Homo sapiens: one gene and its partners. The protein of the gene in region 1 interacts with the protein of each later gene in a biochemical or structural test. Each region holds a gene or a part of one and is shown on either strand. Other genes may lie near its edges. The genes, in order: INSR, SH2B1, ENPP1 and TRIM72.

Region 1 (5,624 bases):
TTTGTGGAACAAAAGTTCGAAAGAAAAAACAAAACAAAAACACCCAGCCCTGTTCCAGGAGAATTTCAAGTTTTACAGGTTGAGCTTCAAGATGGTTTTTTTGGTTTTTTTTTTTTCTCTCATCCAGGCTGAAGGATTTTTTTTTTCTTTACAAAATGAGTTCCTCAAATTGACCAATAGCTGCTGCTTTCATATTTTGGATAAGGGTCTGTGGTCCCGGCGTGTGCTCACGTGTGTATGCACGTGTGTGTGTCCATTAGACACGGCTGATGTGTGTGCAAAGTATCCATGCGGAGTTGATGCTTTGGGAATTGGCTCATGAAGGTTCTTCTCAAGGGTGCGAGCTCATCCCCCTCTCTCCTTCCTTCTTATTGACTGGGAGACTGTGCTCTCGACAGATTCTTCTTGTGTCAGAAGTCTAGCCTCAGGTTTCTACCCTCCCTTCACATTGGTGGCCAAGGGAGGAGCATTTCATTTGGAGTGATTATGAATCTTTTCAAGACCAAACCAAGCTAGGACATTAAAAAAAAAAAAAGAAAAAGAAAGAAAAAACAAAATGGAAAAAGGAAAAAAAAAAAGAACTGAGATGACAGAGTTTTGAGAATATATTTGTACCATATTTAATTTTTAAAGTCTCTGGTATTAGCCTCATAAGTTATTGACTATTCCCCGGGGTTGGCGGGGAGTGGGGACATGAGTTGGTCTGCCTGTTGTGGGGCCGGGAAGGGGAGGGAGTCAGGCACAAGTGGCCTCTTTGTTTGGTCTTAAAGGCATCCATTTCTGGGAATGAAGCCATGTTCGCTGCTAACACTTTTGGATGTTGTGAGGCCACGTGGAGTGTGTGAGAGACTAGGTTTTATGGATGGTCTGGTTCAGGTACCAGGTCTGCTGGAAGGTTCCTGTTCGGATAAGCTGGTAGCTACCTAGCTCTGAGCCTGCCTTCAAGAACACCTGTGTTCATCCTCTGATTCTCTGTGTGTACCTCTTGTGGCGTTTCCTCTCCCGGGTGTGAACATCCTAACCGTTATTGTGCAAACCCAAGAACGTCAGATCCCAAAGCACAACAACCTGGATGGACTTTGGGAACATCTAAGCAATGTAAGAGAGAGGTGCACTGAGAGTACGTCTTGGTCCCCTCCACCCTGAGAGCATCTGACGGTCCTCAGTACTGAACTCCCGGAAGCTGCTCTGAGCCCGGTGACCTCATCTGGGCCAGGTGTGGTGCCTGAGCTGAATGCTCAGGTGCTTACAGTGTTGCAATCCCTAAGAGAGTAGAGTCTGGAGGAGAAACCGTGAAAAAGACCTTACACACCACCAAGAACTTCCGAATGGGCGTGAATCCACCGTTTCTTCTCTTTGCAAAAAGAACCACCACAGCTGCTCAAAGAACACAGTGAACTCATCACTTTGGTTCATCAAAAAATCATCGCCCATGCGTTATTCCTGAGTGCATTTTCTTACAACTTTTTGACTGCTTCCTTTTCTTCTTCTCTTAAGAGTTGTGGGCTTAAGAATGGGATAGAGTCATAATGGCAACCTCCAAGCCCTCTCAATTCTTGATTAAGAACACAGGTAGACATGAATCCCAATTGTCTATTGCTATCTTATTTATATGATTCGGGAAAATACAGCATGTAAAAATATTGCTGAGGAGCCTCAGTGATTGGGTACAAGAAGCAAGAGTACAGAAATTATTTTTGCCAAATTTATTTTGTAAATATGAGGGTCTGTACCTAAATTTAAAAAAAAAACACGTAGAACTAGGTATTTTGTTCTCTTCTTAGTAAATTTGTAGTGGTTGTATACTACACTAGCTGCAATTTTCACATTTTTCTAATTCAGAAAGGTTTTTCTTATATTAGGGGAAAAAGTATTTATTTTAATATATAAAATCACTCTGAAAATCACTCTCATAAAAAATGGAGCGCATGTAAATTTTTATCAAAGAAAAATAAACAGGTGAATGGGGGATAGTGATTTTCTTTTTTCAGCACAGTCTACCTCAGTGTATTGTTAAGATGTGATTCAATCATGGACATCTTTGAGATTTCAGAATTCTACCTGGAACCGGTCTGAATCAGGGAACGTGTGTATCAGCTGATTCGAATGCCAGGGACCAGTAAGAATTTTGAGGGAGGGAGTTGGGATGGAGAAGGTATGGCCTTTATGCGAGCATAGATCCTTTTCTTCCTGGCTGGTAATATTCTTCTCTGAATTTAATCTTCCTTTAAAAAAAAATCCTCCATCTATTGTCACTATGTTCCCCAAACATAAACTAAGTTCCAGGCTGTCATGATGTATCTGATATATGGGGTAACCCAGCAAGGTGTACCTTCCTTTGGTGAGAGATGGCTGCCGGGGCAAAGACGGGCTTTGATTCAGAGCAAGCATTCCCACCTGTTCCATGGAATCCCCCTGAAGTGAGCACAAAGGTGCCCTGGGCTCCCTGATGGTTTATGCCCACTCCTTTCAGGCTGGTGATGCACCTTACACACAAACACCTAATGCAATGTCTTTTTAAATTCTCCAAGTGGGATGGGAGCATGTGAGGGAAATTCCAATCCAAAACCCATTAATGTGCTGAACGCTTTTTTTTTTTTTTTTTTTTTTTTTGCAACAACACCTTGGACCTCTGTGTTGGGGTTTGACTGACCTCAAGCTGATATTATTGGACCTTGTGCAGCTTTGATAACCCATGTGAGAGTCTAGGCAGGACCAGTGGGGCCCAAATCTTGCTGCTCTTGTACTTTTAGGCACTGCCCTTGCAGACTCACCTTTCTCCACCTGCCCTGGAGAAAGGTAGGGTGTGCTGGGCCTGCCCCTTGCAAATGGGATTCACCAGTTTCATTTATTTGACTCTACTGCCACAGTGAAAAGAGCAAACAGCTATTGGGTTGCAAACCTCCTTTGACATTAGGAAATGTTGACTTTGTAACAATAAAACTTTGGTCCTAGAAAGACACGGTTGTCCTGGGAGTTTGTAGTGTTAAGTTGCAACAACAACAACAAAAAGCAACAAAACCAGCTTAGGATAACACTTTTTGTTGCTTGTTCTTAAAGATGTCTCACTATGATTAAAACCCTTTTCATTAATGTAGTGAAAGCCACACAGGAGTTCCTTCTTCCAGGAGGAGAATACCAAGCACATCACTTTCTCTCTGCATCAGTGATGTCAAATACGCATCAGAAAATGTTCAGGTTTTAGGAGCTGTCCTAGGTGCTGTTTCATCATTGGAAGCAGTGAGAAAGAGAAGCACTGCTGCTTGTCTGGATATAGGCTGAGGATGATTGAGAGAAGCTGTGGGAACTGACACAAGGGTCTGCATAGGTCATCCTGTGACCCTGGGGACTATGTTACCAACTGACAGACAGATCTTTCACTGTATCCTAGCAGGGCAGGTAGTCCACCAAGAAATGTGCTTATTGGATTGGGAGGTGTTTATTTGTAGTCTGCTGTAACACGTGTGAAAGAGCAGGAGCGTCATCAGCATATGACTTGCGCTGGTCATCCGGTAAATGGATGTGCTGTAGTCCCAGTGCTAATCATTTCTCTCCTTCACAGTGGGTGGAAGTTTAGGGTTAAATGTCCTTTGAATGTCACCTGGTGAGTCCTTGACACCTTAGGCTCTTCAGAAACAATGGTTTTGTTGAGGATGGGGAACAGGGAATGCCGATTTTATATACATGGTACACAGAGAGGGGTGTCACTTCAGAAAATCTTCCAGCATGTTCTTCAGAATATTAATTTATATGCGAGGTGAGGTTGGGAATGAAAAGAACAGGTCAGCACTTTTTTTTTTCCTAGAACATACAAAAGAACATGGTGGACTTTCAGGGAGTGCAATGGAAGGTGAATATTTCCTTAAGGGTCCCCGAGAAATGGGAGTGAGGGGAGGGGACACAATGGCTTTTTGAGCTTACTTTTACCTTCTGATACTAGTCAAGGTCCAGAACCAGCCACCAGCCAAATTTCTATCTGGGTGCGGGCCACTGAAAATCCTTGTTAAAAACCAGATCACAAATCTGGGGCTCTTGGTCCCATTGGAGAAGGAAGGAAGAGCCTCAAAATAAGTGTGCACCCATGCACATATTCAGGAACAGCTTGTTTAGTCTTTACACTTTGCCTGAAAGTTGCTTCTCCTCGTCCCTTTGTGTGCCTGGGTGGCCTCGGCCCTGTGCGTTGGCAACGCAGGATCAAATGTGCTGCAGCTTTTGCAGAAAACAACTCAGAAACACAAAACCCCCCAACAGCTCAATTATTATTTTTTCAATGTTTTCCTACAAGAGCCAAGTAGCACCATGTACAGAAGACGCCTTTTTTTTTGGAATATTGAAATCGTTCTGCATGTAAAATATGGGATAATGACCTGTTTATATTAAAATTCTGATTAAATTATCTGAGAATACGCTTGTTTTTGTGTGGTGTCCCGGTAAGGACCTGTCGTGTGGTCGGGGGATGTGGCTATGAGTTGGGCTGTGTTAAGGAAAACCTCTTGGAATATGTAGGTGCCTTTTTTTAGAGGAGAAAAACACCTAGATTCTTCCACACATGAAAAGGGAGGTTAAATAGTTGCTACCAGCAGAGTTGATGACTCGTAGGGACATACTTGTATGGCCAAACTGGTGGTTTAAATATTGCACTATTTCCATACCATTTGGTAAGTAAGCGCTTCCCCAAGGGCTCCCAGACCTCCCCATGGTCCAACCACTAAAGGGTTCACTCCGAGAATACCAATGAACCTTCAAGATCTTGCTCTATTCTGACATGCGGGAAACTCATATGTTAAGTATTTTCAATGTCATCCTGGGAGTGGAGACCTGTCCCAGGTTGGGTGGACAGGTGAGTGACCATGGGTTAGACCATGGGATTGAAAGCCTTTTGAATAGTCTTTCTTGAGTGGCTTAAAACAGCAACTGTTTATTTATTTTCTTTTTTTGTTTGTTTGTTTTTGTTTTTGTTAGTTTGTTTTTTGAAATGGAGTCTCACTCTGTCACCCAGGCTGGAGGACAGTGGTGCAATCTCAGCTCACTGCAACGCTGTCTCCGGGTTCAAGCAATTCTCCTGCCTCAGCCTCCCAAGTAGCTGGGATTACGGGCGTGTACCACCATTCCCAGCTAATTTTGTATTTTTAGTTTCATCATGTTGGCCAGACTCGTCTCAAACTCCTGACCTCAGGTGATCCGCCCGCCTCAGCCTCCCAAAGTGCTGAGATTACAGGTGTGAGCCACCACACCCAGCCTTATTATTATCATTATGATGATTATTTTTGTATTTTTAGTAGAGACGGGTTTTCGCCATGTTGCCCAGGCTGGTCTCGAACTACTGTTCTCAAGCGATCTGCCCGCCTCGGCCTCCCAAAGTGCTGGGATTGCAGGCATGAGCCACGGTGCCTGGCCTGTTTCTTACAGTTCTATGTGTTGGTTGGGTGGTTCTTCCGGGAACAGCCTCACTCCTGTGCTGAGGCCTCTGCTGGGAGAGCCAGGATTGCTTGTCTTCTAGGAGGTTCACTCAGGCTTGTTCATATGGTGGTGGTTGCAGGGATACCCAGTCGGAAGGAACAAAAAGCCCCCAAATGTAAATATTTTCCAAACTTCTGCTCGTGTGGTATTTGCTACTGTCCCAT
Region 2 (8,161 bases), on another chromosome or scaffold:
TTTTGAGAGTAAGAACATTTCCCTGTCTTCCGCTATCCCAGAAAAGCTGCAGCCCCAGGGACACACTCTCAAGGCACTGGACACATATATATACCTCCTTTCGGCGACGCCACTTGCTTAAATGCGCTGAGGGCTTTCTCCTTAACACAAGCACTGCCGGCGGCTGGGAAGTTGAATTCCTACCTTAACCACAAACGTGTTCTCCCGGTCAGGCATCTCCAGGGCTGTGGTTGTCCGGACGTCTGTGATAGAAGAGCAGGGGATGCTGAGTCGGGGCCGAGAGGCCTAAGTCAGGAGAAAGAAACAGATCTGGGTGTTTGGTTTCCAAAGACCACTCTTCCCCTCCCTCCAGACATTCATCTTTCCTTCTACATCCTCGGGAAGTTAGACAAAAGGCAGTCACACTGCTTTCTCAGTCCTGCCCGCAGCTGCTAACACAGAGCCAAGAGCCAGCTTTACCAACAAAAAGTGAGCGACACCAGGGCCATGGGCTGGTAAACCCCAGAGCTTATCTGCAGGGCTGTGACCACTCTGAGCACTCTCTCACTTGCTCTCAGTCACCCACCCTCCAAGGGGCCTCACCTTGGGTGGTACAAAGAACTCCAGGCGACTTCCTCCTCCTCCTTCTCCTTCACTTCGAAGCAGCAGGCGACACTTCTGCCACTGAGGCTGCCCTCCTCCCCCTGAAGGAGGCCCAGCCACCCCTCCTCCCCGGCCCACTCCGGCTGGGTCAGGGGCTGCCTCCTCAGCCCCCATGAAACTCAGCAGCTCTTCCCTCTGCACCATCCCTGCTCCATCCTTCAAGGCGCCCCCTCCCCGACTGAGTCTCAGCCTCTCAAAACGGTGAGTCCATCTTTCCCCAGGGGACGTTCCATCACTGACCAGTCCCCTACCAACGGTCCCAGCCCCGCCAGAGGAGTTGGAGTTGCTGTTTCCACCTAAGACTGGGGGGCCTGACGAGGTCTCCAGGGGCCCAGCGGAGGAGGGAGGGTCAACGGTCCCCCGCCACTGCAGGATGCCACGGACTGAGCCTCGGACAGAGCGACCCACTGAACGCAGGGAAAAGCGCTTCTTGAGCTTCGGCTTGGAGGAGGTTGTAGAGGAGGAAGAGACTGAGGAAGGGAGGGGGCCGGCCAGGTCCTCAGATGATCGAGAAGGGCCCAGCACAGCCAGGGGCCCACCCACCCTGCAGCTCTCAAGGGACAGGTCATGTGGCGAAATCTCCGCACCAGGGCTCAGGGGAGCCAGGATGGGTGGCGACAGGGAGCCAGAGGCCCGGGCCACCTCGGCTTCAAAGTGCTGCAGGAAGAGCTCAGCAAAACGGCGGGAGAAGGCAGCCTCGGCCCCGGGCCCCGCATATTGGGGGTGGGAGGCCAGGTAGAGGCGAAAACGGCGGGCAAAGTCCAGAGCCGCAGCCCGGGCGTGGGACTCACAGAACTCCCGCCAACTAGGGGGCGGGGGTGGGGGCAGCGGGGGAGACGAGGGGGAGGCCCCGTCCTCTGGGGAAGGGGCACCATTCATGATGGGCCCCAGGAGGTGGAGAGGGGGAGCCTGTGGGGCACAAAGAGGGAGGCAGCCAGAAGACGAGGGGTGGGCGGCAGCAGCTGCGAAAGGAAGAGAGAGGCACACACGAGGGTCACTGCTGAGGGCGCACCGGAGGCTGCATCCCACCCCCAGCCAGAGACGTCCGACCCTACTTCAGACTCCGCAGAGAGCAATGGGGAAGGGAGCCCAACACCTCCCTTCCCTCTCCCAGATCCTGGCACCCTGCAGGCCCCAGCCAACTGGCTCCCCAGCGTCTAACCTGCCCCGAGCCTGCCACATTTGCCCCCACTTTCCTTAGCTTTGGATCCAGCAGTAGAGGGCTTTGGAGCACCTTCCCCCTAAAAAAGGGAACTTTTCCAGATCACCCCCCCTCTACATCGGATCCTCCAATATTCATGTCACACTTCCCATGAGCCATTCTAGAGGCTCCCACTTGGTTATCTTACCTTTCCCTGAGAGGTTTCAAAGACCTCTCGAACAGATGAGGAAACCGAAGCTCAGAAAAGTTTCAGAACTCCAAGTCTACTGTTTTCCCCACTTCATAGTCCCTGTCCCCAGGGCCCGGCTGGGCCAGCCTCAGCCATAGCACCTCACCGCCCCAGCTCGCAGGGGGCTAGAGAGGAGCTGGGATTCTAGACCTTAGAGAGCCTGCCTCACGCATCTTAGGGTCCAACTCTTTGGAGGGGGCCGATTCATTAATGAGGATGGATGCATGATGGACCAAAACAGTAATTGTCTTGAAAGCTGACCCCAGAGTCCAGCACCCACGCACTGCGTGAAGGAGATGTGAAATAGCTACAGCCCACTTCTTTGGTATCCCTTCAGTCTGGGGCCAGAGGCCGCAGGGGCCCCAGAGGAGAAACTGGGTTGGCTCAGGTCAAGTCTTTGCTGGCCTCACGTAAACAAAACATCACAGGGAGAGCTGGGGCCCTAGGATTTTTCACCTTCCTCTTCTCCCACTGGGGAGTATGCCCTAAAGGCAGGTTAGCCTTCTGGTTAAGGCCATGGACTTGAGTCAGACCAGGGCTCAAACCACCTTATGAGCACCCAGTCCAGCCACCTTATGAGCGATGTTATCTTGAACAAATTCCACGTCCTCTCTGAGCCTCCGTTTTTCTATCTGTTAAACAAAGCTAATGATCCCTCCCCTCGAAATGTTGAGAGAATTACATGGAATGGGGTATGTCAGCGCTGAACGCAAAGTAAGCATCCGCTGAACGACTGCCATTGTTACTATCTTCATGTGGGAGAAGAATATTATTGTTCCAATTTTCTAAAATAGAAATTAGAGAAAGGAGGAGCCCTCTCAAGGTCTTACAACTAGAAAGTGGCAGAGCTGGGTGTGGAATTTACAACCCTTGGCTCTTGTTAGCGCTCCTCCCGCCACGCAATACTGGAAGGTGACAGCCCCAGGACTGGGGCCAGAGCAGCTCAGGAAAGCCTCCCCAAACCCTCAGCGACCTCAGACTCCTGTTCAAACCTACAGCCAGGCTGTAAGTCGGTGAACCCTCCCCTTCCTCCTGGGCCTCGACCCTACAAGCTCAGATGGCTCCAACCGCAGGGACAACTCCAAACCAACGAGAAACAATCAGGAGATGCAGGAGTCATGGAGCACGGGGGAACCCAGCCAAGAAGTGCAAACCAATCTCCAGCCAGCGGCCACCTCGGCTCACACAGGCCCACCCAATCCTCCGCACCGCAGACAGACCCAGCCCCCTTCAGGCCCGCTGACCCTGCGACTCCTAAGCTGGTGACTCAGTTTCTCTTCTGCCAAGCAGGACTCAGACACATTTTCCCGGTGCACCTGCCTCCTGGCTCAGTTCTGATATTTCCCGAAGGGCGGGAGGTGGAGGGTGCAGGCTCCGCTCTCGGCTCGGACCCTCCGGGCCCGGTGGTCCATATACTCCGATCCGACCCTACTCCCTGGACACCCCCCAGCCGCCCATTTTCCGGGGCCGCATCCACCTCGGGACCAGCCCTGTCTGCTGCACTCTCCGGGGCCGAGTGCCTCTCCAGCCCCCGGCCCTCCACGCCCACCCCCACCCAGGAATCCTCTCGGGCGCCAGGGCCGGGTCGCGGAGAGGGAAAAGGTACTTGAAGAGGGGGGTTCCGGTTCCGGTCCCACCTGCATCTCGGTCCCCGAGGTTAGCTCCGGCGGCGGCGGCGGCGGCGGCGGCTCCCGCTCCCTGCGCCCCCACCCACTACGCGACGAGCGCCCAGCCCGGTTCCGCGCAGGCGTCAGGACCCCCTTTCCCGTCGCTGAAGGAAGAGACCATAGAGAACAGCGGCGGGAGGGAAGGGCACCTTCATACTTACTTCCGCCATCCTCCCACTCGGCGCCGACCCCAGGAGACCGAAGACGGTGTGAATCTCGTAGGGCTTCAGTGCCTTCTCCAGTTGCACCTAAAAGCGACCACAGACGCAGCGGGGGAAGTGCTTGGATCCCACCAGAGCGTCCTCCCGGAGGAAATTCGGGACAAAGGGGCGATGTCGACCATAGAGAACCGGCCTTAGGGGATAGAGTCCCAGGGCCCGGCTGAGGGCTAGAGTAGCCGCCGAGCACCGGAAACCAGCGAGATGATGAGGCTGTGTGAACGGCCCGCTGCAGCCTAGAGCGCCGGCCCCGCTGTGGAGGGGCACGCGGACAACGCCACCAAGGAGCTGAGCGAGGAAAGAAGCGGGTGACCTTGGGGAGGCCCTGCGGGGAGGCGGAGCCTGAACTTACGACCTTGGTTTATCTGAGGAAAGGGGCAGGCGGTCCAGGAGTTTGCATCTCTGAGGCTGGAGATGAAGATGGTGGTAGTGGTGGGGGAGGGGGTGGGTAGAAATAATGAGGTCAGGGCCGGGCGCAGTGGCTCATGCCTGTAATCCCAGCACTTCGGAAGGCCGAGGCAGGTGGATCACCTGAGGTCAGGAGTTCGAGACCAGCCTGGCCAACATGGTGAAACCCCGTCTCTACTAAAAATACAAAAATTAGCCGGGCATGGTGGCGCGCGCCTGTAGTCCCAGTCCCTCCGGAGGCAGAGGCAAGAGAATAGCTTGAATCCGGAAGGCAGAGATTGCGGTGAGCCGAGATGGCGCCACGGCACTCCAGCCCAGGCAACAGAACTAGAATCCCTATTTTAAAAATAGAAAAAAAAAAAATGAGGTCAGGGCCGGGAGCGCTGGCTCACGCCTGTAATCCCAGCCCTTTGGGAGGCCGAGGCGGGCGGATGGCTTGAGGTCAGGAGTTTGAGACCAGCCTGACCAACATGGTGAAACCCCGTCTGTACTAAAAATACAAAAAATTTAGCCGGGCGTGGTGGCAGGCGCCTGTAATCCCAGCCCCTTGGGAGACCGAGGCAGGAGAACAGCTTGAACCCGGGAGGCAGAGGTTGCGGTGAGCCGAGATGGCGCCACGGCACTCCAGCGCGGGCAACAGAGCTAGACTCCCTATCAAAAAAAAAAAAAAAAAAAAAGAATTGAGGTCAAGGCCGGACGCAGTGGCTCACGCCTGTAATCCCAGCACTTTGGGAGGCCGAGGCGGGCGGATCACTTGAGGTCAGGAGTTTGAGACCAGCCTGACCAACATGGTGAAACCCCATCTGCAATAAAAATACAAAAATTTTAGCCGGGCTTGGTGGCAGGCGCCTGTACTCCCAGCTACTTGAGAGGAGGCTGAGGCAGAAGAATCACTTGAACCCCAGAGTCGGAAGTTGCAGTGAGCCAAGACTGCGCCACTGCAATCCAGCCTGGGCAAAAGAGCGAGACTCCATCTCAAAAATAATAACAATAATAATAATGAGGTCAATTCCAGACGTGCTTTTGGGACGTCTGTGGGCATATAGTCTGGAGCTAAGAAGAGACATCAAGGCCAGTTAGAGAAATCGAGAACAATTAAAGTACGGAGGGTAGTTGAAAGCATGAGCACAGTGAGATCCTCCACCCATCCAGTGTCTGATTGACCCGGCTCCAGCTGGCCTAAACAGTAAAGGAAGCTATGGCCCAAGTAATCGAAAAGTCCAGAGCGGACAGATTCAGACAGGTGAACACAGGGGCCAGAAGATATCAGGAACCTGTGGCTCACCATCTCTGGTTCTGCCTTCCCTATGCATTTGGCTTCACCCTCAGGCAGGCTCTCCTCTCTTAGTGGCAAAATAGCTTCTTGTAGCTCCAAGCTTAAACCCTAATAGCTTAGCAACTCTCCTAGAAGGAGCATGCCTCTTTTCTGAGATTCCCAATGAAATTTCCAGAACTGAGTAGCTGATTGGATCAAGTGCCCATCCTGGAACTCGAAGACAAATAAATAACCCAAGAGGGGAAGACGGATAAATCCTGACTCACCTAAGAATGTTCAAGGCCGGGCACAGTGGCTCACGCCTGTAATCCCAGCACTTTGGGAGGCCGAGACAGGCGGATCATGAGGTCAGGAGATCAAGACCATCCTGGCTAACACGGTGAAACCCCATCTCTGCTAAAAATACAAAAAAAATTAGCCAGGCGTGGTGGCGGGTGCCTGTAGTCCCAGCTACTGGGGAGGCTGAGGCAGGAGAATGGCGTGAACCTGGGAGGCAGAGCTTGCAGTGAGCCGAGATCGCACCACTGCACTCCAGCCTGGGCGACAGAGCGAGACTCCGTCTCAAAAAAAAAAATGTTCTAAGATGGCCGGGCGCAGTGGCTCACGCCTGTAATCCCAACACTGGGAGGCTGAGGCGGGCGCATCATGAGTTCAGGAGTTCAAGACCATCCTGGCCAACATAGTGAAACCCCACCTCTACTAAAAATACAAAAATTAGCTGGACATGGTGGCACATACCTGTAATCTCAGCTACTCAGGAGGCTGAGGCAGGAGAATCACTTGAATCTGGGAGGCGGAGGCTGTGGTGAGCCAAAATCGTCCCACGGCACTCCAGCCTGGGCAACAGAGCGAGACTCCATCTCAAAAAACAAAAAAGTGCTGGGCATGGTGGCTCAGTCCTGTAATCAATCCCACTGTTATCAATCCCAGCACTTTGGGAGGCTATGGTGGGCAGATCACTTGAGGTCAGGAGTTTGAGACCAGCCTAGCCAACATGGCGAAACCTCATCTCTACCAAAAATATAAAAAATTAGCCACGTGTGGTGGCGCGTGCCTGTAATCCCAGCTGCTTGGGAGGCTGAGGCACGAGAATCGCTTGAACCTGGGAGGTGGAGGTTGCAGTGAGCCAAGATCATGCCACTGCACTCCAGACTGGGCAACAGAGCGAGACTCCATCTCAAGAAATTAAAAAAAAAACAAATCTGGAGTCCTAACTGTTGGAACAGAAATCACATACCAGAGACCAGGGAGTGTGGGAGTGAGTATAAGATGTGTGTGTGTCGGGGGGAAATGGGCAAACACAAACACAAATGATATAAAGGGATCCGTGGGGGATCACAGGGTGTGCTGCCATGGTCTCTAGAAGGCATTGATAACTAAGAGACTGCTGCGTGACTTGGTGAGAGTAGTTTCAGCAGAGGCCAAATGGTAGTGGTTTGAGGAATGAGTGGAAGGTAAAGAAGTGGGAGGAGGCTGGGCACGGTGGCTCCCGCCTGTAATTCCAGCACTTTGGGAGGCCAAGGCAGGCGGATCACCTGAGGTCAGGAGTTTGAGACCCGCCTGGCCAACATGGCAAAACCCTGTCTCTACTAAAATTAGCCAGGCGTGGTGGCACGCACCTGTAATCCCAGCTACTTGGGAGGCTGAGGCAGGAGAATCGCTTGAACCTGGGAGGTGGAGGTCGCAGTGAGCCAAGATCGTGCCACTGCATTCCAGCCTGGGTGACAGAGCAAGACTCCATCGTAAAAAAAAAAAAAAAAAAAATTCAAGAAGTGGGAGGAAAAATGTGGAGAGATGTTCTACACAGTTTGGCTGAAAAGGGGAGGACAGAGATAAGGCAGGTTGTAAGTGTGAGAAGGTAGAAAGGTTTGCTTGTTTGTTTCTATCTTGAGGAAGATCTGATTTTGTTGGAAACATTAAGGGGAAAGGAATCAGTAGAGAGGATGGTCGCTGAAGGAGCAAGGTTGCGGAGAAGGTTGGTGGGGACGTTATCCAGGGCCCAGGTTAAGCCAAGGCATTAATATGAAGGGGAGAAACCCTTCTTCCTCATAAGCAGGGATGTAAAACTCGGGATGCTTTCCGCTATAACTACTAGAAACCCTAATTCCAGCTAACTTAAACATGAAAACAGCCGGGGGGGGGGGGTCTATTGGTTTAAATAATTGAAAAATCAGAGATAGGATGACTTCAGGCATGGCTGGAGCCAGAGGCTCAAACAATGTTGATTTGAACTTGGTCTCAGTCTCTTTTAGTTCTGCTTTTCCCTGGACTTTCTTTCTTTTTCTCTCTCTCTTTTTTTTTTTCCTGATACAGGGTCTTGCTCTGTCACCTGGGCTGGAGTGCAGTGGTACAATCATAGCTTACTGCAGCTTCGAACTCCTGGGCTGAGGCAGTCCTCTCACCTCAGCCTCCCCAGTAGCTGAGACCACAGGCATGACCCACGCCTGGCTCCCTGGACTGTCTTCATTCTCAGGGAGGTTGTCATCTCGTAAGTAGCAAAATAGCCAAGCCTCATTCTACCAGCTTAAACAACCCTGGCAGAAAAAGAGTATAGCTTTC
Region 3 (8,362 bases), on another chromosome or scaffold:
TGGTGTGGGGGTAAAAAGAATTTATGAAGATACTTGTAGGTAAAGAAAGTCATATTTATTAGAGCACGTATGAAAATGTGTTGCAAGGGAACAATGGGCAGGCCAGCAAGAGAGGAGCTGACTGCAAGGAGACGAAGGCTTGCTGGGGATGTTCTAGAATGGTGCTTGTGCTGTGTGCTGAAGAGGGCTTTGTGCAGTACTGATAACACCGAGGTTGCAGTGAATTAGCTTGCATTTTTTTTTAATCACCCGAGGGTCTGATGATAGCTGAGTGCAGGAAGATTGTGAGTTATTTGTGCAAGAGGGCTACATGTTCTGGACCACAAAGCAAGGCAGACTTACAGCTTATCTGCTTTATATTTTTGCTTTCCCTCGGTCCCGCCATCCTGACTCCTTTTCCCTAATTAGAACCCCACACTCTCTTTGGATGGTACATGCGTTTTCCATTTTCCCAGGTTCTATTACTCTCCTTTGGATCTTACACTTCTGAATTCTCTCTATTCGTTTTGTTACCTAACTGATCCCTGTAGGCATCTCTCCTTCATCCCAGAGCAGCAAGAATCCTTTCCTTACCCTCTTTGTAGATGCAGGCCCAATAACAGGTCTCAAACCTTCCCAGAGATTATATATAAACCATGCATAATATAGGAGAAAATTAAATCTTTTTATTCTCTCCCTTAGGGGTAGTGAGTGGTTGATTTACAAATGCAAATGATAGATTTAAATGTTTGTGTAAAGTTGAAATGTCAAACATTTTGTTGGCATTTAGAGATATTATCTGAAAGAGCATTTTACAAATAAGGAAACTAAGGCTCAGAGGCTTCTGGTAATCTGTTCAAGGTCACATAGTTATCCAAGCTTCTTGCTCCAGGGGACATATTTTTGTGCTTTCAAAAAAAGAAAGAAAAATCAGGATGTCATACACATTCTTAAAAATAAATTAATGCCACAGAAAAATGTTTTCCCTAGGCCTCACAAAGATTAAAGAGGCTTGTGGGTTTTTTTTCTGTTTAGATTTGGCTAGATGTCTTTCTTGTTTTACTGGCGAATTAGAAGAAAGCTGGAAAAGCTCTGAAACAGCTGCTAAAATAATTACCCTACAGCATATTTCATTTTTTAATCACTAAGAAAAGTTGTTTCAAAGTAATATTTCAAAGTAATAATTAAACATTGATAAATTGTTTTTGTTTGGTGTTTTGGCCTTATCTACAACCAAAGCTTCAAGCACCAAGACAGAAATGTCTAAATATTTATGTTACAATAAAACTTAATAGAAAACTTACACAAAATCTTAAATTATCATCTTTACTGCTATTCCAGATTAGAGTATGCAATCACTAAAACAGAGTGATTTAGGATTAAGGATGAAACATTCATTGTTCACCTTTGCATTAACCCAAAAATTGTGTTGTGGTTTTATATCTCATGACCTTATTGTACTTTGGAATGTGATGGTGAAGCTGTCCCTCAGATCATTTAGAATAAAGAAGACTGAGGCAATATTTCACTATAGGCTTTGCAATGTCTATAGCTAAACCTGAAAATGGCATATCTGACTCATTTTTTTTTTTTTTTTTTTGAGACAGAGTCTTTCTCTGTTGCCCATGCTGGAGTGCAGTGGCATGATCTTGGCTCACTGCAACCTCCGCCTCCCAGGTTCAAGCAATTCTCCTGCCTCAGCCTCCAGAGTAGCTGGGACTACAGGCATGTGCCACCATGCCCTGCTAATTTTTGTATTTTTAGTGGAGACTGGTTTTCATCATGTTGGCCAGGTTGGTCTCAGACACCTGACCTCAAGTGAACCACCCGCGTCAGCCTCCCAAAATGCTGAGATTACAGGCGTGAGCCACCGTGCCCGGCCTTGGCTCATTTTTATTCTTCCGATTTTAGACTTCCAATTGGGTTTTTATAATTACCCATATTAAGTCCCACCTGGCACAGATGAGGCATGAGCATTAGGCAGAGGCCACATCCTGGTGACGTGTGTGCCAGGTCTGTCCTGCAGATGTGCTACATTTTGTTTGGCTTTTAAACGTGCTACATTTTGTTTGTTTGAAGAAACTGTTTCTCTGAATTTTGTAGACAACATTTTGCAACCGGAGAATTCACACAAACATTTAAATTTCCTGCTTCTCTTGAAAAATCTGACCATCTGCCCACACTGGGCACACAATCCTGTTGAATAGATGCTGCAACCTTTAACATGGCACATGGTTTGCCTTTTGCAGTGTGTATAGGGCTGCCTCAGTCAAATATGGTTCATGGCATATTGTGCTTTCAAAAAAAAGAAAGAAAAACCAGGATGTCATACAAAATCTTAAAAATAAATTAATGCCACAGAAAAATGCTTTCCCTAGGCCTTAAGATGTTTGTGACCCTGGAGACTGCACACTGTGTTTTCCAAATGTTAAGTCTTTAAAGTGGTTCGTTGCCTTGAGATGCAGACAATACACTTCTTCCATTTGTTTTGTCAGGTTTAAAGGCACTTTGGATAATGTCTCTGTTGAGTTGCTTTTAGAGGTTTTGACACTCATTTGACCAGTCTCAGTGGAGCAAATCTTTGTCCTTGAATCTGATTTTTGGAAAGAGTCAAAGGAAAATTTGGAGCCAAGTTTGGGGCAGAAAAATATGTGTGATTATGAAACAGTGAAAACCTGTTTCTCTTGGGTGGTTTGTGAGCTGACTCAAAGGTAACTTTTTAAAAAAGTTCAATAATGCTTTGAGGGAAGGCTTTTACTTCTTCCAGATGTCAACTGTCCTTTCTACTAAGCTCTCATAATATTGAAGTAGCTTTGTTGTCTATGGTGACATCCGAGGTTCTTGGTCTCACGGCCACAAAGATCAAATATGTGGACACACACAAAGGGTGAGGTTTGGAGCAGAATTTTTAATAGGCAAAAGGAGGAGAATAGCTCTGCTACAGAGAGGGGTCCCAAAAAATGGGTTGCAATACGTGGTGAAATGCAGGGGTTTTTATAGATGAGCTAGTGGGGAGGCGGTGTCTGATCTACATAAGGAGGGAAAACCCGGTTTCGTGCATATGGCATGAAAACCCGGTTAGGACCAGGTGTGTCATCTGCATAGGGCTTAAGTGTCTGGCAGCCCCGGCCCCAATCTTCTACTATATAGGCAGGTAGCTACTCCGTGTTGCTTATTTCCTTCTTACTGTGCATGTGGTAAAAAAGAGGGGAGGTGGAACCCCCATGGTGGACATGCCTGGCCCCAGTAGCCCCTTCTGTCTGTGCCGCTGCCGGCATCTCCCGTGCAAGCTTCCAGTTTCCTTACCTATGTTTGCAGCCCAATCTTCCAGGTTGCTCTTTGTTAGAAAGGAAGTGATTTCTTGGGCTGCTTTTTGTTAGAAGGTAAGTTCTGCCGAGGGCTCTTTTGCTCATACTATCTGCCTAAATAATTTCTATCTCCTGTATCAATATCCTATGTGTGACTCTATTCTGCATATATGACTTAGGTTTTAATTATTTTGTTTACGAGTTGGTCCTACCCCCCCACCCCCGCTTCCACCACACTTAAGGAAAGATACATTTTAATTCATTTTTTATATGGTATGCATAGTTGGAGGCCAAAAGATTGAGTTGAAGGATTCATTACTTGATGAATAAATGGATGGGTGGATGGATGAGTCAGTATAAATGAAGAGCATCCCAAGTTGACTATTTTAAAGGGATAACATGCATTTTATATTTGTTAAACATTCATTCTCATTTGTAAACACTTGTATATATTCATGTATTCAAAATGTATTGAAAATTAATTGTTTTCCTTGGTACCTGAAGTCAGTCCTGGGTATTGCAAAGTAGTTCGAAGTCACTGGTTTCCCTCTGTCTCACTTCACTACACACTGGTGATTTTGCTAAGTGATGAGCCAGAAAATGTACAAGTTCCAGAATCAAAGGTAAAACAAAACCCACCAAGAATCAGCTCACTGTTAGCGTCCTAGTTGAAAAATAAGGCTTATCAAAGTATTTCAGATTGCATTAACACTTTTGATATAGCTAGGTATCAGTGTCAACCTCAGGAGAGGGCAACGCCAACTCCTGAAACCTTCAATACAGAAAGTCTAGAAAAATAAGCAAATATACATACAAACAATAGCGAGAAGACTCCAGAAACCACATAAAACCGTGGGAATCGAAATATCCCTTACGTGTGTTCAGTACATGTGAACCCACGTATTTTAAGTGGACGATTTCTCTCTCAGAGTACCGTAGGTAGTGGGGGACGGGGCGCAGAGGGGGAGAAACAGAAAGTCGCCTTCCTCCATGGTTCATTTGCATTTCCATCCAGAAACTCACAGGTCGACCCCAAGACTCCACTCTCTCCCGCCTTTGAGAAGCCGGACCGGCATCGGCGGCTGCATCCTTCTCCTCCTCCCCGCTCTATTTTGGGGCCCCATGATCTCATGCCCTCTGCAGACCACACGCTGCAATTCCAGCCCAGCCCGCGCCGCGAGGCCACGCAGGGCGATTCCTGCAAGTGTCGGGAGGGTGGCCGGGGCGCGGGGAGGGGACGGCTTGGGGGGAAGTTTAAGACACGCCCACGTAAGGGACCCAAAATAACCGACACACAGAGTGCCCGAAATCAGACAGGAAGCCAAATAATCCGGGGCGTTGAGTCGCTTTGCCCTGACTGCGAGAGCCGGGTGTAGGGCGGGGAGCCAAGGATCTGACCGCGAGGGGCGGGCGCGGCGGGGAGGGGCGGGGCGGGGCGGGCGGCGCGGGGCCTATTAAAGGCGCGGCCGGGCAGCGGGGCCGGAGCGGCCGGGGCCACGATGGAGCGCGACGGCTGCGCGGGGGGCGGGAGCCGCGGCGGCGAGGGCGGGCGCGCTCCCCGGGAGGGCCCGGCGGGGAACGGCCGCGATCGGGGCCGCAGCCACGCTGCCGAGGCGCCCGGGGACCCGCAGGCGGCCGCGTCCTTGCTGGCCCCTATGGACGTGGGGGAGGAGCCGCTGGAGAAGGCGGCGCGCGCCCGCACTGCCAAGGACCCCAACACCTATAAAGTACTCTCGCTGGTAGGTCCGCGGCCAGGCCCCGGCGCCCGGGAGGGCTGGGAGTACGGGGAGGGCGGCGCCGAGCTCCTGCGCTCTCAGCGCAGTCAGCACCGGGCACCGGAGAGAGGCATGGTCCGGGAGTGCTTCTTCGCCCGCGCGCTCTCCTCCGCAGCCTTTGCAAGTGCCCTACACAGCCGCCCCTGCCAGGTACCTTGCCAGGGCAGGATGGTTCACTCTCACTTGAATTATGGATGCCTGTGAAAGCAGGCTGTTCAAAACGGTCATCCTTAGAAATACTCGACCCCCTGCCCCAGGAGAGTACGGGTTTTTAGAGGAGAAAAATGTCAAACGCGAAAGTTGTTGGTCTTAAGAAGGTGCATCAATGTGTTGCTTCTTTTAGGGGGCTCTGGGCGCAGTATACATGACTTCACTTGGGTTAACTGATTGCAGTTGAAGAGTTAGCGGAGCTCTTTAAGTTTTATTAGGAACTCTACGGAACACTTTTTCCCTTTCGCTCCGTTTTGGAATTTCCTTGCAGGTGCTCAGAAATTCCATGGATGTTCACATTATGTGACTGAAGAAACCTTTATGATTCTTTGCCCACTCTTCTAACCAGAGGCTACACGGTTTGTGTTGCTAACAAAAGCTACCTATTACTCCTCTGCTATTTTGCTATGACATTTGCAGGACCCACAGTCAACTTCATGAAATGTGGGGGTTGGTTTTTATTCTGAATTCATGGTGGGAAGTGCTGATTGAGAGAAGGCCTGGATTCCTGGCTGTTATTATTTGCTGAGGCCTTGCGTAACTGTCCCTAAACCTCAATTTCTAATGTGTGAAAATGGGACAACATCAACTCCCTTGTGCATTGCATGGGATTATTGTGAAAATCAAGCTGAAGAATGTAGGTAGGGAAGTAAATTGAAAACAGCAAGGAAATAGAATCATTTTTATTGTATTATATGGAAATCACAGATTTCTATGTATAGTGTACCCTAAAATATATCCCCTTACATATGATTGAATAATGCTTTGTAGAAAAATTTCTAATTTTTCAAGTCTCCTTTCATTTTGTATGCATTTCCATTTTCACTATATTTGGGACATCATGGAGATGCTATAATACTTTGAGGAATCAATCTTCCTAGACTTAAGAGATGGTGCCGTATGCTTAGTACTTAAAAAGAAGCCTTAGTTTCACAGAATAAGTACCCCAAGCCACATGATGTTTGCATCTCAAGATAAAATTTTGCATCTTGTAACACTGTTTTGAGTCTATAATAACACAATATTGATGAGAACTTAGTCTCTTGAGTCACCTTTTAAAAATTTTGTTAATGGAAGACCTTAGCTTTTACAACCTGATCACTTAAATTGTTTAGTATTAATACCTTGAGGTGTTTCACACACGATGAGGTAGTCGATAATTGTATATGGAATCAGTGTGTAACTCTTGTGTAAAACCATTTCTACATGCCTATAAACCTTTACAGGTTTTCCAATTGCAAAATTCAGGTTTTAAATTTTTCTTGCTCATTTACTTATACATCCACAACAGATATCAGCAAAGGTCTAGTTTTGGAATAAGCTGTCCAGTCTTTGAGACCTGCAGTCAACTGGTCAAACAGCATTCTGTGTGATGATGCTACTCTGGGCATTTGACATGGAAGTGTCCTAGGACTTACTTCCACAAGTAGGACTATTATGGACCTTTTTTATCCATTAATTGGGGTCTTTTGCATCTATTGAATTGGAAAGAATTCTTACTTCATATCTTTTGATGGAACACTGTGAGACATTAACATACAAATGTTACCAAATAGACCTGGTGCGGTGACTCATACCTATTATCTCAGCACTTTGGGAAGTTGAGGCGGTTCCATTGCTTGAGCCCAGGAGTTTGAGACCAGCCTGGGCAACATGATGAAACCCATCTCTACAAAAGATACAAAAATTAGCTGGGTATGGTAGCATGCGTCTATGTCCCAGCTACTTGGGAGGCTGACATGGGAGGTTCAGCTGAGCCAGGGAAAGTTAAGGCTGCAGTGAACTGTGATTGTGCCACTGCACTTCAGCTTGGGTGACACGGTGAGACCCTTTATTGTTGAAATTGCTATTTAGCTACTGAACTGAAAGTGCAAACTCGTATTCTTCTTTCCCTTCCCTACTTCAATACCTTTTTCCCCCAACCCCGCCCCCCCCCCAAAAACTTCCCCAAATAATGGGCTTCCAAATGGAAAAGGCCCCAAAAGCATCCTGACAATTGTCGTCAAAGAGCTCTGGGATATGTCTTCTAGAAAGGAGCTGCAATTATAGAATTCCTTTTGTTTTCAGATTAAACCTCAGCACACTTTTCATAAAGCTGCAGAAACAGATTGAACTAATTGCAACCTGGGGTTGGGATTAGGAGAGGCCCAGCACTATGATCCTCAGCTACACTGTTTTAATTTAGCAGGATAAATAGAAGAGTTGCGTTGCCTTGCCTTTCAGAGGCAATCATGTTGCAGTGGCAATGTAATTTTTACATTACTCTGCAGTTTTCTCAGATAAACTAAAATGATGTAGATGTGTGAGAGTGGATGAAGGAGTGAGGATTCTGTCCTACCCTGGCTTCTCCCCATTGTGGTGGTTGATCTTAGGAGAGGGCCACCAAGCTGTGCTTTAGAGGCTTTTGGCCCTGGGCCCTGGAATGCTTGTGCCTAGGTACTGAGCCAAACTGAGGAAAACAGCAAGAGGGAAAAACAAGTATTATTCTCTACATGTGTCAGTAGGTATGTTAAATATTAGATGCCTTTCCTTGGTTGTAAATGAAGTTTTGAACTGAAGTGTAGACTTCCACCGAGATGTGTTGACTTGGAGATGTATTTAAATATCCTTCTTGTTTCTTGGTGTGATTTTACAGTCATGTAATTCTCAACTACATTGCAATACATTTCTCCAGTTAGCTCCTCAAAAGCATTTTTTTTGTGTTGTTTGTGACCTTCTGCTATACTTATGAATACATATATCTGTGTATCTGTGTATGTGTAAAGGGCTTGCGTATGGGTGGTGGTCACTGAAGACTACTTTCATGTTTCAGTGAAAGAGTTCTTTAAAAAAACATATATCTATATCTATATCTATATATCTATATCTATATCTATATCTATATCTATATCTATATCTATATCTATATCTATATATATGTAGAGAGTCCGTTTGGCTCAAGTTTGAGGACTGCAACCCAGGAGCATAGATTCAAGTTGCCCTGAGTAGATGCTCCTATTAGCAGCAGTTACAAATGGGTTTTTAAAGGAAAAAGGAAGAGGCAGTTCCTAAGTTGTTTATCAAGCATTCATGTTACAATAACGAGCTATT
Region 4 (8,842 bases), on another chromosome or scaffold:
CCCAGCTACTCGGGAGGCTTATGCAGGAGAATTGCTTGCCTCCGGGAGGTGGTTCAAGCGCTGTACTCCAGCCTGTGAGACAAGAGTGAGACTCTGTTTCAAAACAAAATAAAAGAGCTCGGCATGGTGGCTCACACCTGTAATCCTAGCACTTTGGGAGGCCGAGGTGGGTGGATTGCCTGAGCTTGGGATTTTGAGATCAACCTGTGCAATATGGCGAAACCCCATCTCTACTAAAACACAAAAATTAGCTGGGCGTGTTGGTGTGTGCCTGTAATCCTAGCACTTTGGGAGGCTGAGGTGGAATAATCGCTTGAACTTGGGAGGCAGAGATTTCAGTGAGCTGAGATGGCCCCACTGCACTCTAGCCTGGGTGACAGAGTGACTCCATCTCAAAAAAAAAAAAAAAAAAAACAAACAAAAAACAAAACAACTTACTTGTTGCATCTTTACAGAAATACATAGTCTTGATACTAATCCTTACATGATTCTCATTTTATAGGTGAGAAAATCAGGTTAAGCGACTTGCCCAAGGTCACACAACAAGGAAATTCTAGTCAGGACTGGAACCTGGAAGTGACAGTCACTGCTTCCTAAGCCCTTGGGTGCCAGCACACTGTCCCTGTTTATGTGGCATATTTTTTTTTCTTTCTTTTTTTTTTTTTTTTTTTGAGACTGAGTTTTGTTCTTATTGCCCAGGCTGGAGTTCAATGGCTCGATCTCAGCTCACTGCAACCTCTGCCTCCTGAGTTCAAGCAATTCTCCTGCCTCAGCCCCCCAAGTAGCTGGCGTTACAGGCACCAGCCACCATGCCCAGCTAATTTTATAATTTTAGTAGAGATGGGGTTTCACCATGTTGGTCAGGCTGGTCTTGAACTCCTGACCTCAAGTGATCCCCCCACCTCGGCCTCCCAAAGAGCTGGGATTACAGGTGTGAGCCACTGCACCCGGCCTATGTGGCATATTTTTCAGTTTAATCCTCATGACAACTCTATGGGATGGTTTTTTTTTTCTTTTCTTTCTGAGACAGGGTTCAAGCAATTCTCCTGGCTCAGCCTTTGGAGTAGCTGGGACTATGGGACTACAGGCGTGAGCCACTATACTGTTTTGTTTGTTTGTTTGTTTTTGGTAGAGACGGGGGTCTCGCTGTGTTGTCCAGGTTGGTCTTGAACTTCTGGACTCAAGTGATCCTCCCACCTTGGCCTCCCAAAGTGCTGGGATTACAGGTGTGAGCCACCACACCCAGCCAGGATGGTGTTATTTATCCACATATTGTATTTGAACGTGCTGAGGCCCAGAGAGGCAGGTGATTTTCCCAGGGGTGCCCAGCATGAGCTCATGAAGTCAGCATTCAGGACTTGCTTCTGTAGCAGCCCTGACTAGGGCTTTCTGGCCTCTCTCTGCATGTACCCAATAATTAGGAGCTCTTACCTTCCAAGGCACTCATTGCTTGAGCTGTTGGGAAACTTTCCCTTAGGACAAGCTGAAATCTATCCCTAGCTCTTTAGGTCTGAGGGACCTCATAGGGCCAGCTATACCGGTTTACCACTCCCTCCTTCCCTGCACATGGCTTATTGCCTCTTCTTGTTCTCAGTCTGCTTAAGACAATCAATGTTCCTTCCGTGGATCAGAGGCCAGTCCTGGCCCATCTGCAGGGAAGGATTGAATTGACTATCACCCACCTGTCTTAGACACCCACTCCTATAGATGACAGCAGGACCTTCAGTCCCAACTTGGCAATATTGGAAACTCTGGATGAGATTTAAGTTCTGGAAGTTGAGTTTTTGAGCATGAGCAACTTGTGGTTTCAGAGACCAGCTCCAGATATACCCTCTTTCAAACCTCTTCCTATTGCTAACACAAGGCTGCGTCTGAGCCATCAAGAATGGAAGAGAAGAAATCAGGGGCTTTTAGCCAGGCATGGTGGTGAACACCTGCGGTCCCCGTTACTCAGGAGGCTGAGGTGGGAGGATCACTTTAGCCTGGGAGGTCGAGGCTGTAGTGAGCTATGATTATAACATTGCACTCCAGCCTGGGCGACACAGTGAGACCTCAGAGACTTAAGGACAAAGAAGGTGGGGACACAAAACTCCCCTGGATTTCTCAGTGTGCCGGTAAAGAGCGCCAGCTTTGGCCGGGCGCAGTGGCTCATGCCTGTAATCCCAGCACTTTGGGAGGCCGAGGCAGGCGGATCACGAGGTCAGGAGATCGAGACCATCCTGGCCAACATGGTGAAACCCTGTCTCTACTAAAAATACAAAAAATTAGCCAGGCGTGGTGGCAGGCGCCTGTAGTCCCAGCTACTCGGGAGGCTGAGGCAGGAGAATGGCGTGAACCCAGGAGGGCGGAGCTTGCAGTGAGCCGAGATCTCATCACTGCATTCCAGCCTGGGCGACAAAGCGACACTCCGTCTCAAAAAAACAAAAAAACAAAAAAACAAAAAAAAAAAAAGGAAAAGAAAAAAAAAAGAGCACCAGCTTCCTGAGACTTTTCACATCTTAATTTCAGAATTTTATCTGCAGTCATTTATACAGGTAATTGCTCTTATCCAAAAGAATAATAGAACTTTTTTTCCTCCTAAAAGAACCAAATGTTTACAGCCTGAACGAGGGCCTAGGTTAAACAAGGTGTCAGGCAGCCTGAAGTAGCTACCTTCTTAAGCAGGCCAGCAGAAGTTCATGCTGTCACCACATAACATGCAAGAAGGAATGAGCGGTCGGGTGTGGTGGCTCATGCCTGGAATCCCAGCACTTTGGGAGGCCGAGGCGGGTGGATCACCTGAGGTCAGGAGTTCGAGACCAGCCTGGACAACATGGTGAAACCCCGTCTCTACTAAAAATACAAAAATTAGCTGGGCGTGGTGGCACGTGCCTATAATCCCAGCTACTCGGGAGGCTGAGGCAGGAGAATCGCTTGAACCTGGGAAGTGGAGGTTGCAGTAAGCCGAGATTGTACCACTGCACTCCAGCCTGGGCGACAGAGCAAGACTCCATTTCAAAAAAAAAAAAAAAAAGAAAAAGAAAAAATTAAGAACCTAAGAGACAGGCAAAGGGAGAGTCCAAAGGGGAGATTAAGAGAGTGAAACAGAAACAAAAATTCATTCTGAGAGAGACAGCAGTTGAGAGAGGAAAGAGTAAAACCAGGAAAAGGTTTGAGGGAAGCTAAGAGAAAGATGGAGAGGCCAAATGAGAGGGACTGAGTTTGCGTGTTTATTCATTCACCTAGTATCTGTAGAGCGCCTAATGTGTGTCACACACTTTAGTCTAAGCTGGAGACAAGCAGTAAACACAATTTCTATTCCGTAGGAAGAGACAGACAAGAAACCAGCAAACAAGTAGAATACATTGCATGTCAGATGCTGATAAATGTTATGGAGAAAAGGAAAGCCAGGCAGTGAGATGTTGGGGAGTTAGGAGATTTAAAATCAGGGAATTGGGAGAGGTCTTGCTGGAAAGGTAATATTGAGCAAAGTCTGAGGGAGGAAAAAGAGGATGCCATGCAGTACCTGGGTTGGAGAGTGTTCCAGGCAGAGGGGACCGTAAGTGCAAAGTCCCTGATGCCGAGTGATCAATGGGGAAAGGGGTGATAAAAGAGTCAGAGTGATTAATGGGGTCATAGCAGATAGGGCTTTGTAAGCCACAGTTAGCACTTTGGTTTTTATTCTAGATGAAATTTCTTTCTTTTCTTTTTTTTAATATTTATTGTTTTTTTTGAGACGGAGTTTTGCTCTTGTTGCCCATGCTGGAGTGCAATGGCATGATCTTGGCTCACTGCAACCTCTGCTTCCCAGGTTCAAGCAATCCTCCCATCTCAGCCTCCCGAGCAGCTGGGACTACAGGTGTTCTTCACCATGCCCAGCTATTTTTTTTGAGTTGGAGTTTCGCTCTTGTCACCCAGGCTGGAGTCCAGTGGTGCGATCTCGGTTCACTGCAACCTCTGCCTCCCGGGTTCAAGCGATTCTCCTGCCTCAGCCTCCCAAGTAGCTGGGATTACAGGTACCTGCCACCACACCCGGCTGAGTTTTGTATGTTTCATAGAGACGAAGTTTAACCATGTTGGCCAGGCTGGTCTCAAACTCCTGACCTCAAGTGATCCACCCGCCTGGGCCCCCCAAAGTGCTGGGATTACAGGTGTGAGCCATTGTGCCTGGCCCTTGCCAACTTTTTAATGGGGTTGTTTTCTGCTTGTTGAAATGTTTAGTTTCTTTATATATTCTGGATAGTAGATCTTTGTTGGATGCATAGTTTGTGAATATTTTCTTCCATTCTTTTTTTTTGAGACGGAGTCTCACTCTGTACCCCAGGCTGGAGTGCAGTGGCGCGATCTCGGCTCACTGCAAGCTCCGTCTCCCGGGTTCACACCATTCTCCTGCCTCAGCCTCCTGAGTAGCTGGGATTACAGGTGCCCGCCACTGCGCCCGGCTAATTTTTTGTATTTTTAGTAGAGACGGGGTTTCACTGTGGTCTCGATCTCCTGACCTCATGATCCACCCGCCTTGGCCTCCCAAGAGTGCTGGGATTACAGGCGTGAGCCACCGCGCCTGGCCTTTCTTCCATTCTTCAGTTGTCTGTCTGTTGATAGTTGCTTTTGCTTTTGCTGTGCAGAAGCTCTTTAGTTTAATGAGGTCCCACTTAACAATTTTTGTTTTTGTTGCTTTTGAGGACTTAGTCAAGAATTCTTTACCAAGGCTGATATCCAGAATAGTATTTCTCCTGCGGTTTCTTCTATGATTTTTATGGTTTGAAGTCTTACATTTAAATCTTTAACCCATCTTGAGTTAATTTTTTTTATATGGTGAAAGGTAGGGGTCCAGTTTCATTCTCTTGCATAAGGCTAGCCAGTTATCCCAGCGCCACTTAAATGAAATTTCAGCTGAGATTTGAAAGATACACATACAGGAACCAGGGCAGAATTGAGTTCTGGGCTGCAGGCTCTGGATTCAGTTCATTCATTTGTTCAATGTCTCTCTATCATTCATTCTCCAAGCATTTAGAGAGGCCTACTTTGTCCCAGGCTTGTCCTGGGTGTACTAGAGAGACCAAAGTGGAAAAGACCCTCCCCTCAGCTCTGGAGGAAGAAAACATTTCAGGGTGGGGTGAGGTCCTGCCCTCCTGCAGGTGGGGTAATCCTGCCAGGGTGACCTTGGTCAGCCATAAACTTGGGGAATGAGTGGGTGACAGGCTGGGGAGGGGCTGCCAGCAAGGAGGAAGGAGCTGGAGAGTGTGGAGGTGGGAGTGGGGGGAGAAAGGGCAGACCCCCTTCAATTTTCTGTCTTTTCTGTGGTGTGAAAGGCCCTGGCTCCCCGCTGGCTCTGAGCTCTGACTCCAGGCAGGCCGGGGAGAGAACAGTGGATGGGCCAAGACAGGTGGCCCTGTCATGTGATGTGTGCCCAGGGACTACTCAGCCCTCACTTTTAGAACGGTTTCCGGAAGTGATGGGAGGGATTGGGCAGGGCAGCTAAATATAGTCCTGGGGCCATGGCTCAGTCTGGGAGGGTCTTCCGCTGAGCACTGTGTGCCCATCACGCGTGGTGTCCACTGCCAGCTGCCCCTGTGAGTCCCTGTCCTTGCTTGGAGCCTGCTGCTTGTCTCAGATCCTTGGACCCAGCCCTGACCCCAGTCCAGCTAAGCTCAACCCTGACCGGTCCTCCTTCGAGACTCTTTCAGCCTAAGATCTCCAACCAGACCTGTGAGTCCCGTGGGCTGGAGAGAGGGGGAGGGGAGGTCTGGGTATCTTGGTAAAGTGAGGGAGGGGAGTCTCGGAGTGGGGGCTCTGGAGAATTTGGGTCCGGGACTAAGGTCAGAGGCTGAGGCCTGGGGCTAAGGCGAGGGCAAGGACAGTGGGCTAGAATCTGGGCTTGTGTTCAGGAACTGGGGTTGACTGATAGGGCATATTTTTGGGGTTGGAGCTGAGAATTGCAGTGGAGGCTGCTTTTGGGCCTGAGACCGAGTTCCTCTTTCCCCTTGGCCGTCAGAGTCCCATCCAGTGTAGGATGTGAGGTCTTTACAGGCTGGGGCTTCTCCCTGCGGGGCGGCGGGCCCGGCCTGGGCTAGGGCTGGGCCAGGGCTGGGCCGGGAGCGCGGCGCCGCGGGGTCCCCCTAACCTACTCCTCCTCCACCCAGGCCCGCCATGTCGGCTGCGCCCGGCCTCCTGCACCAGGAGCTGTCCTGCCCGCTGTGCCTGCAGCTGTTCGACGCGCCCGTGACAGCCGAGTGCGGCCACAGTTTCTGCCGCGCCTGCCTAGGCCGCGTGGCCGGGGAGCCGGCGGCGGATGGCACCGTTCTCTGCCCCTGCTGCCAGGCCCCCACGCGGCCGCAGGCACTCAGCACCAACCTGCAGCTGGCGCGCCTGGTGGAGGGGCTGGCCCAGGTGCCGCAGGGCCACTGCGAGGAGCACCTGGACCCGCTGAGCATCTACTGCGAGCAGGACCGCGCGCTGGTGTGCGGAGTGTGCGCCTCACTCGGCTCGCACCGCGGTCATCGCCTCCTGCCTGCCGCCGAGGCCCACGCACGCCTCAAGGTGCGGGATCCGCGCGCATCGTGGTCGGAGGGGCTGTTCGGTGGCACGGGGCCGATGGGGAGGTCGCTGCAGTGATTTGGATTCTGAGTCTCTAGAGAGGCTCACGAGCTCCTGGAGTTGCGGGGGGCGGGGGCGGGGCGAAGCAGCCAGGAAAGAGGGTCTGAGGAGCTTAAGGCGGGGCTGGCAGAGGAAAGCCGCGCAGGGATGGAGCCTGGCGATAAGGGCGCTGAGCAAACGTAGGTTTCCCGGCCTTAGTCCCTAGAGGAAACTGGAGATGGGCGGGCGGAGCCCCAGGGCGGGTCTGATGGGCCGGGCGGAGCCAGGCGGAGCAGGGACTGACCAGCCCCTGCGGCCCACGCTCGCATTCCTGCACCCGGTGGGCCGTTCGGGCTGGCTCCCTGCTCGGCGCTGGCCCACTTTGGACTGGAGGCGCGGCGTTCGGGACCGAGCCAGGCGGCCGGGGCAGGGTTGTCCCCTTGTGCTCAGCGGAGGCCCACGCACCCCTGAAGCTGCGGAACTTGGGCTGGCCTGACGGTCCCCAGGCGGGGCCTCACCAGAAGGGAGACTGTAAGGGCTAGGCAGCCGGGATCTGCACTTATGTGTGCGGGCCCAGGGTGGCACCGAGAGCCCCGTCCAGGATGTTTTTCTGGGTGGAGCTGGAAGTCCCGAAAGCCTTGGGAGCCCACACGCAGTTGTGCGCGTCCCGAAGTACCCAGCAGAGACACCCAGACAGAGGCAAATAGAGACGAACGCACACTGGCTGGTGCGTGTCATCCGTGTGGCAAAAGCACACACGTATAGCTACCGGCGGGCACGTGTGCGCGCAGCCCCAGTAAAGTCTGCCATGAATATTTATTGGGCAGTGGAAGAATAAATGACAGGTGCAGGGGCTGGAGGAGGCGGGGTCTGGAGGCACGGAGGCGTCCTTGGTCCCCGAGGTGGAGACACTGCTGTTGTCTTACGCGACTGGTGCGCGCGTGGGGCTGGCTTCACAGGCGTTGCATTACTCCTTTTGCCTTGACCCGCCTCCTAGAAGGGGTAGACCACCGTCCTTTCGTTGGTATTCGAGGCCCCCAGACTTCCCAGGGACCCAGCCTCTCAGTCCTGCCTGGCCCAGTTCAGCCCAGTCCTAGCTGGTGGTCTCCTAGCTCAGGGCAGGAGCCTCCTCCCGGGACCCCTCCCATCCCAGCACACCTGTGCTTAAGACCCCAACCTCAGGGCAACCCGCTCGGATCCCCTTCCATGCTGTGGAAGCTTTGTTCTTTTGCTCTTTGCAATAAATCTTGCTGCCGCTAAAAAAAAAACAAAAAACAAACAAACAAAAAAAACCCAACCTCGCCCAACCTTGCCCGTCTTTATCTGCGAAGAAAGCACAGAACCCATGAAACGGAACAGGGCCCAGGCAGCCCAGGAGCCTGGAAGGGGGCAGTGGGGCGAGATGCAGCCCACCAGGGTTCGCGGCAGCCCAGCCCTTCGCCCCCGGGAGGGGCTGGCCGGAGGTCTGAGGGAGGACCCCAGGAGGGACCCTGAAGGAGGGGAACAGGAAGGCTCTGGGCGGGACCTGACGCGTGGGTCCTTGGCGAGGAAGCGGGGTTGGGTCCCGAGATCACGTACCAGCTCAGAGTGGCCCTCACGCAGCCCGCTGCAGCCGTGCGGCCTCCTCCAACATGCGCATGTCGCGCAGCACGGCCACGACGAGCTCGGCTGCGTAGTCCTCGTAGTAGGAGGCGACCAGCTTGTCGGTGAGGTCCACGATATCTAGCTGCCCGAGCGCGCCCCGCGGGATGCGCTCAAAGCCCTCGCGCAGCGGCACCGTCCCCAGCTTCATCTTGAACTTCTTGAGCTCCTCCGGTGTCAGGTTCTCCAGCACCTTCAGGATGGCCTCGCGCTTCGTTCCCATGGCTCAGCCCTGCGCCTCTGAGCCTCCGAGGGCCTGGAGCCATCAGGTCCTACCTTTCCTGCAGCAGGTGGAGCTGCCGCCCCCGGGGATGTCCCGGGAAGGAGACTGATCTGGCAGCTCCTATTCAACCCTGTGGCTCCTGCTGGGAGGGGACTCTGCAAACACCGCCTAGAGGGTCCCCCAGTTTCCCCTGGGAGAGTGGGGGCGCCAAATTGTTGAGGTGGGGATTGCTGTTCCCAATCTGCAGAGGAGGAAACAGGTTGCAAGTCATTGAGGCAGGAATGGAACTGATTCCATGGTCAGGCACCTCCCAGCAAAGAAGTGGCTTTGTAGCCTGGCATGGTTGCTCATGCTTGTAGTGCCAGCTACTCGGGAGGCTGAAGCAAAAGGATTGCTTGAGCCTAGGAGTTCGAGTTGTGATTC

The links.
Region 2: the proteins of INSR (region 1) and SH2B1 form a complex in vitro, tested with the Homo sapiens proteins (one study listed by BioGRID).
Region 3: the proteins of INSR (region 1) and ENPP1 form a complex in vitro, tested with the Homo sapiens proteins (one study listed by BioGRID).
Region 4: the proteins of INSR (region 1) and TRIM72 form a complex in vitro, tested with the Homo sapiens proteins (2 studies listed by BioGRID).

The regions. Positions count from the first base shown.
Region 1 is NC_000019.10:7,111,037-7,116,660, reverse strand, and holds the end of INSR (insulin receptor isoform Long preproprotein), read left to right. Parts: 3' UTR 1-4,396; downstream 4,397-5,624. UniProt on the Homo sapiens protein: Receptor tyrosine kinase which mediates the pleiotropic actions of insulin.
Region 2 is NC_000016.10:28,859,455-28,867,615, reverse strand, and holds the start of SH2B1 (SH2B adapter protein 1), read right to left. Parts: upstream 3,774-8,161; 5' UTR 1,522-3,773; coding exon 583-1,521; intron 286-582; coding exon 184-285; intron 1-183. UniProt on the Homo sapiens protein: Adapter protein for several members of the tyrosine kinase receptor family.
Region 3 is NC_000006.12:131,803,250-131,811,611, forward strand, and holds the start of ENPP1 (ectonucleotide pyrophosphatase/phosphodiesterase family member 1), read left to right. Parts: upstream 1-4,770; 5' UTR 4,771-4,786; coding exon 4,787-5,026; intron 5,027-8,362. UniProt on the Homo sapiens protein: Nucleotide pyrophosphatase that generates diphosphate (PPi) and functions in bone mineralization and soft tissue calcification by regulating pyrophosphate levels.
Region 4 is NC_000016.10:31,208,610-31,217,451, forward strand, and holds the start of TRIM72 (tripartite motif-containing protein 72), read left to right. Parts: upstream 1-5,509; 5' UTR 5,510-5,688; intron 5,689-6,122; 5' UTR 6,123-6,129; coding exon 6,130-6,519; intron 6,520-7,352; exon of another isoform or gene 7,353-7,548; intron 7,549-8,133; exon of another isoform or gene 8,134-8,149; coding exon of another isoform or gene 8,150-8,419; exon of another isoform or gene 8,420-8,526; intron 8,527-8,842. Other genes in the region: PYDC1 (pyrin domain-containing protein 1), read right to left, coding at 8,150-8,419. UniProt on the Homo sapiens protein: Muscle-specific E3 ubiquitin-protein ligase that plays a central role in cell membrane repair by nucleating the assembly of the repair machinery at injury sites.